Linked DNA regions of Homo sapiens: region 1 is linked to region 2. A link means that fine-mapping ties the variant in region 2 to the plasma level of a protein whose gene starts in the linked region. Region 2 holds a variant in brackets. A gene starts in the other region. All regions are shown on their forward strands.

What was found. PIP is the posterior inclusion probability: the model's chance that the variant is causal. Protein levels are from antibody-based Olink assays in UK Biobank. Linkage for the fine-mapping came from a reference panel and not from the study's own genotypes, which makes the PIPs less certain.
Region 1: TNFRSF14 starts here. The variant in region 2 is fine-mapped to the plasma level of the TNFRSF14 protein (UK Biobank, PIP 0.96).

What each region holds. Positions count from the first base shown.
Region 1 is chr1:2,555,875-2,558,374 of GRCh38, forward strand. TNFRSF14 (TNF receptor superfamily member 14) reads left to right here and starts at 497. Exons shown (of 8, transcript NM_003820.4): 1 at 497-859; 2 at 1,852-1,960; 3 at 2,469-2,500. The coding sequence starts at 791. TNFRSF14-AS1 (TNFRSF14 antisense RNA 1) reads right to left here and starts at 1,137. Exons shown (of 7, transcript NR_037844.2): 1 at 1,103-1,137; 2 at 1-822.
Region 2 is chr3:46,882,372-46,885,370 of GRCh38, forward strand. PTH1R (parathyroid hormone 1 receptor) reads left to right here. Exons shown (of 16, transcript NM_000316.3): 3 at 1,141-1,263. The coding sequence starts at 1,189. Among named protein-coding and RNA genes, the nearest start is that of PTH1R, 6.2 kb to the left of the region's middle. The variant T/C (reference allele first, on the strand shown) is at 1,678.

The DNA.
Region 1 (2,500 bases), not on the chromosome of region 2:
GGGCAGGGAAGCCCAGTGGGGTGCAGGGAGCCAGGAAGCTGGGGTGGGGTCAGGGCAGGGTCCACAGGGAGACCGGGCGAGGCTGGCAGCCTTCCCAGTCCGCGCAGCGTCTCTGCAGGGGGAGCAAGAGCTGCCCTTCCACCCCTCCCAGGGGACGGGTAGGGGCACTCTGGGCTTTTCCCACCCCCTCACGCAGGGACACAGGCCTGGTGGGTCTATGACTGAAATTGGCCAGACCGCATTCTGGTGGTTTTATTCGGAAGGGAAGTTTACCCTGTTCAGCAGAAGCTGAGATGGGAACAGGAAACCCACAGGGCCCCTTTATTCGGCAAAAATGTCAGTCAGCGCCCCGGGGAGCAGCCGAGGGTCCCTGAGTGTGTGAGTGAGGTGGGGAAACACAGATGGACTTTGGGGGGCTCCCCCTTCTACAGGAAACCCGGAGTGGACTGGAATGGTGCAGGGGGAGAACTCGCCCCTCCCATCGGGCGCCTCCTTCATACCGGCCCTTCCCCTCGGCTTTGCCTGGACAGCTCCTGCCTCCCGCAGGGCCCACCTGTGTCCCCCAGCGCCGCTCCACCCAGCAGGCCTGAGCCCCTCTCTGCTGCCAGACACCCCCTGCTGCCCACTCTCCTGCTGCTCGGGTTCTGAGGCACAGCTTGTCACACCGAGGCGGATTCTCTTTCTCTTTCTCTTTCTCTTCTGGCCCACAGCCGCAGCAATGGCGCTGAGTTCCTCTGCTGGAGTTCATCCTGCTAGCTGGGTTCCCGAGCTGCCGGTCTGAGCCTGAGGCATGGAGCCTCCTGGAGACTGGGGGCCTCCTCCCTGGAGATCCACCCCCAAAACCGACGTCTTGAGGCTGGTGAGCCCCCGAGCCTCCTCTCCGTCTGCTCGCAGATCCCAGTTCTGACCCCAGGGCCTCCCACAGATCTCTTCCCCATGCCCCTGTCCTGGCCGTTGCTGGCTCCGGCGTCCAGCCCGTCCCCTGCTGCCTGGGGCTCTCGGGTCAACCCAGACCCCCAGCACTGGGCTCACCACAGTGGGGTGAGCAGCAGAGCCACAGCCCTACCCAGCAGACCTCCTCCTGCGTGTGTCCCCCACTCACCACTCCGTCCACGGGCAGCTGGTGAGCCCCCATTTGGCCGGATGTGGGCACTTCTGGGGGCTGGGTGTCTCTGGGCGTCTCTGGGCGGGGCCCTCGAGCAGGTGACCCAACTCCCCGGCAGCCCTGACCTTGGTGACAGGTGATAAGATCAGTGTGCAGCAGGGGGCTGGACCCAGGTGGGTGGGGTGGGGATACTCTCCATGCTCATGTGGCACTCCTGCCTGTCCAGCCACTATCCCCATCAGGGGCCCCCGACTGCCCATCAGCCAGCCCAGGAACGAGGCCACGGCAGAGCCACCCTCCCCGATGTGGCCCTGATCAGCCTGTCACCCACTGTCTGGCTTGTGAGCCTCTGGGGCCCATCCCTGGCTGCCCCTGCTGGCTCTTCAGGGGTCAGCAGGTCCAACCTAGGCCAGCAGGGGGGCCGGCAGGTTGTCTGCCCAGTGGGCTCAATGCTCCCAGGTGTGGGGTGTGGGGTCCCTGGCGAGGGCAGAGTTCCAGTTCCCAGGGCTCCGCGCTGCCAGGCAGCGTCATCAGGGCTGGAGGAGGGGCGGTCCCCACCCTATCCCGGGCTCCAGCGGTCGGCAAGGTTGTTCCATGAGCCTGGCCTGGGGCCCGCTTCTGTCCTCTCTACCAGGCACTGCCGCTCCTCCCCATTGCACAGAGGGAGATTCAGGCTGTGGGGCCAAGCCTGGCAGAGCCCACAGGGCAGCCAGGGCATCTCCCAATGCCTGTCCTGACCCCCTTAGGTGCTGTATCTCACCTTCCTGGGAGCCCCCTGCTACGCCCCAGCTCTGCCGTCCTGCAAGGAGGACGAGTACCCAGTGGGCTCCGAGTGCTGCCCCAAGTGCAGTCCAGGTAGGTGCAGCCCTTTGGCGGGCCAGCTCTGTGGGCCGAGGGCAGACACTCTTGCCCCCTTCTGCCCCAGACACCCCTGTGTTCTCTGCCCCCACAGCCATGGGTGTGATGAAGCCCTGGGGCTAGGTGTGCAGACAGTGAGGGCAGAACCCCCAGGCCAGCAGCTTGGACTCTTCACCCTGGGGGACCCTCACAGTCACACTGCACAGGGGGTGGGTCTGAGAGACGTGGCTGGCCCACCGTGGCCAGAGACATGGGCTCGGGGGCACATACCAGAGCCGGGCCAGGTGTCCCAGGAGGCCCCATGTGCTTCCAGAACTTTCCGATTTTCCCCAGAGCAGCTCTGCTCATGGCTGATGGGGCTGCTGTGTCCCGTGGGGCTCATGGGCCATTTGAGTCCCCTTAGCTGGTGTCTCCCTGCTTGGGCTCTGGGCGCGGGTGGAGTGATGGGTGGGCTCCCGAAGGGGCCTCCCGCAGACTTGCGAAGTTCCCACTCTCTGGGCGGCAGGTTATCGTGTGAAGGAGGCCTGCGGGGAGCTG
Region 2 (2,999 bases):
CCCCGGGGCCGCGGACGGGGCGCTGGCTTGGGGAGGCTGTCGGGGGGGCCCCGACATCCATGGCAAGGCGGGGGCCGCGGCGGCGCGCTCGGAGTAAGTCGGGGCTGGGGACCCGCGCCGAGGGGAAGTGGCCGGAGTCGGGGAGGAGCGACTCCGGGCCTGGCCGGAGCAGCCAGGCTGCTCTGTCTCGGTGTCAGTCGGCGGCGCCTCCTCGGAACCCGGGGGAGTCGCCAGCCCCGCGCCGCTCGGCTCGGTGGCTTTTTTGGAAACTTGCAAATGTTTTCGTAGAGAGAAAAGGGGGAGGGAGGGAGCGAGGGAGTGACCGAAACGGAGCTTGGGGCCGCTGGAAGAACTGAGGCCAAGGCCGGGGGAGCTAGAGACGGACTGACAGACAGGCAGACCGACAGAGCGTCGGGGCCGCTGCGCGCCCGAGCCGCACAGGCGCAAGCGGGGCTCTGGCCAAGGATGGGGAAGGGGTGCGGGAGGCGGCTGCCGAGGGTCTGGGATCTCAGGAGGCCGAACGGCCGGGGGCTGGCGGCCGGAACACCTAAGGGCTCAGTGTGGCTGCAAAGTTGAGATCGCACCCCCTAACTGCACGCCCCGCGCGGCTCAGAACGCGCCCCCTGCCCGGCCCTGACTCCCTACGCCGAAAGTCGCGGAGCTAAAAATAACAGTCCTGCGCGCCCCCCGCAGACCGCGACCCCGACCCCTCCCCCGCCCCCTCCCCCCACTGGGCGTGGGGCGAAGCCACAGCTCCCATTTCCCCAAAAGAAAAAAAAAGAAAGAAAGAAAGAAAGAAAGAAAGAAAAGGCGGCGCGGGAGGGGGGCGGGGGGCGGGCCGGGGGCGGGGGGCCCGGCCATATGGATGTGATTTCTTCGCTCCGAGGCAGACGGGCCGCTCCGCAGCGCTCGGCGCCCGCCCGCCGCCCGCCCGGCCTCCGGCTCTCCCTCCCTCCCTCCTGTCCCTCCCTCCCTCCCTCCTTTGCGCTGCTCGCTCGCTCGCTCGCTCGCTCGCCCTCAGCGCATGGGCCCCGCGCCGGGCCCCGGGGCCTCGGGCCGCCGGGACGCCGGGGTCCCATAGGCCGGGGCGTGGGCGGGGCGGCCAGCCTGACGCAGCTCTGCACCCCCTACCACCACCAGGGCCGGCGGCGGCGGCTGCCCCGAGGGACGCGGCCCTAGGCGGTGGCGATGGGGACCGCCCGGATCGCACCCGGCCTGGCGCTCCTGCTCTGCTGCCCCGTGCTCAGCTCCGCGTACGCGCTGGTGAGTCCCCCGCCGCCAACACTCCGGGACAGGCTGCGGGCTTACCCTAGGGTCCGCGGGATAGGTCTAAGGCACGCAGTCTTGAGTTCCCCCAGTAGTTCGAACTTTGGGTGAGAGTCCCCTCTGATCCAGGATCCTGGGTGCCTGCTGTCTCTGGGATGTCTGGACTGTGGGTTCCAGCTGCCTGAAGCCTCCCTATTTCTGAAGCCTCGTTTGGGGTCCCAAATCTGGCAATTTGTGGTTGAGTTTTCACCATCCTCTGCTTCTGTGAGCACCATGGCTGTTTCTCCCTGGAAGATGACAGTGTGACCCAACAGAAGGCTGGGCTTTGGCCCTGCTGCGTACTCCCACAGACTTTGCTTTGGGGACCTCTGTTTTCTGCAAGTTTTGTTGCAGTCCCGGACACAGGGAATG[T/C]AGGTCTGAGGTCAGAATCATCCAGGCAGGGGGTAGGATTTAGGGGCCCCCTCCAGCCCTCACACACACACATGCACACGTCTGGCTTCACCCAGGGTAGAAGCTGTTTCCCCAAGGAGGTGGGTGTGGTGTGGCATGGAGAAGGGATGGAGTTCCCTGAAGGAGACTGACCTCACAGTGCACCCCTGTAGGAGAAGCACAGCATATCCTGTGGGGAAGTGAGGAGACCCCTGGAAAGACTGTCACTCCCTGAGAGTGACCTAAAAGCAGAATGGTAGGGAAGGCTAGAGGGAGAGGAGAGACAGAGACAAAGCCGGGTGGGGAGGAGAGATCCCCCCAGCTGGAGGGGTGGACAGACTAAGAACAGCAAAAAAAATAGGGAGACAGGCAAAGGCAGAAAGCTGGAGACACAGAGTGGGCAGCACCTCCTCCTCCTGGGCCAGGGTCTGGGGCCCACTTGCTGGGAAGGGGGCTGTCCCAGCCCCTCAGTCCTATTCCACAGCAACCCCATCCCCTGGGACGAGCCCGTTCCTGGGGAGGCTGTCTGCCTGTGCGCCTAACTTCAAAGCCTCTTCTCCCTGCTCCCCAGTGGGGGTATCTGCCTGCTAGAGAGCAGGGCAGTCAGGCAGCCTCCTCCTCCTGACCAGCAGCAGCTCCCTACACGGGGCAGAGCTCCAGGCAGTTCCAATGAGCCTGGGATTCCTCCACCTTTGCATGATGCCTGTGTAAGCCTGGGCTGTCCTTCTCCGTGCCTCAGTTGCCCCATCTGTAAAAGAGAGGGCCTGGAAGAAACATCTGCCTGAGAATCCCATCATCAGAGGCTCTCCCTTCCTCTGAGGTCCTCAGCACTTCCCACTTACCTGTGCCTACACCCTCACAATTCTGGCCCCAGCAAAGGCTCCCCACCAAAGACAGCCCCATACAAGGCCTTGTGGATGGGGAAACTGAGGTTCAGAGGAGCTCAACACCCTCTGCAGAGACACTCCAAGTACTGACGAATGCCAGGGGATAGAACTACCACCAACCCCACCCCCGGAGTTTGGTGTGTGACGGCCTGAGGGGTAGACAGGGTGATGGGTGTGGGTGTCCTGAGAGTAAGTCTATGTGTCAGAGCAGGGTTCTGTGGGACTCTGGGCATGGTGTTCATCTGGGTCTGTGTGATTGTGAGTGTCTGAGTCCCTGTGTGAGTTCACGTGTCTGAAGTTGTGGTGCATGACTTGGAGGCGCAGTTGTGTGTGTTTGTGTGTGCCTTTGTGAGCGCCTGTGCACCCGGGCCTGTTGTTTTCTTATGTGTATTTCATAAATGCTTCTGTAGGGCTTTC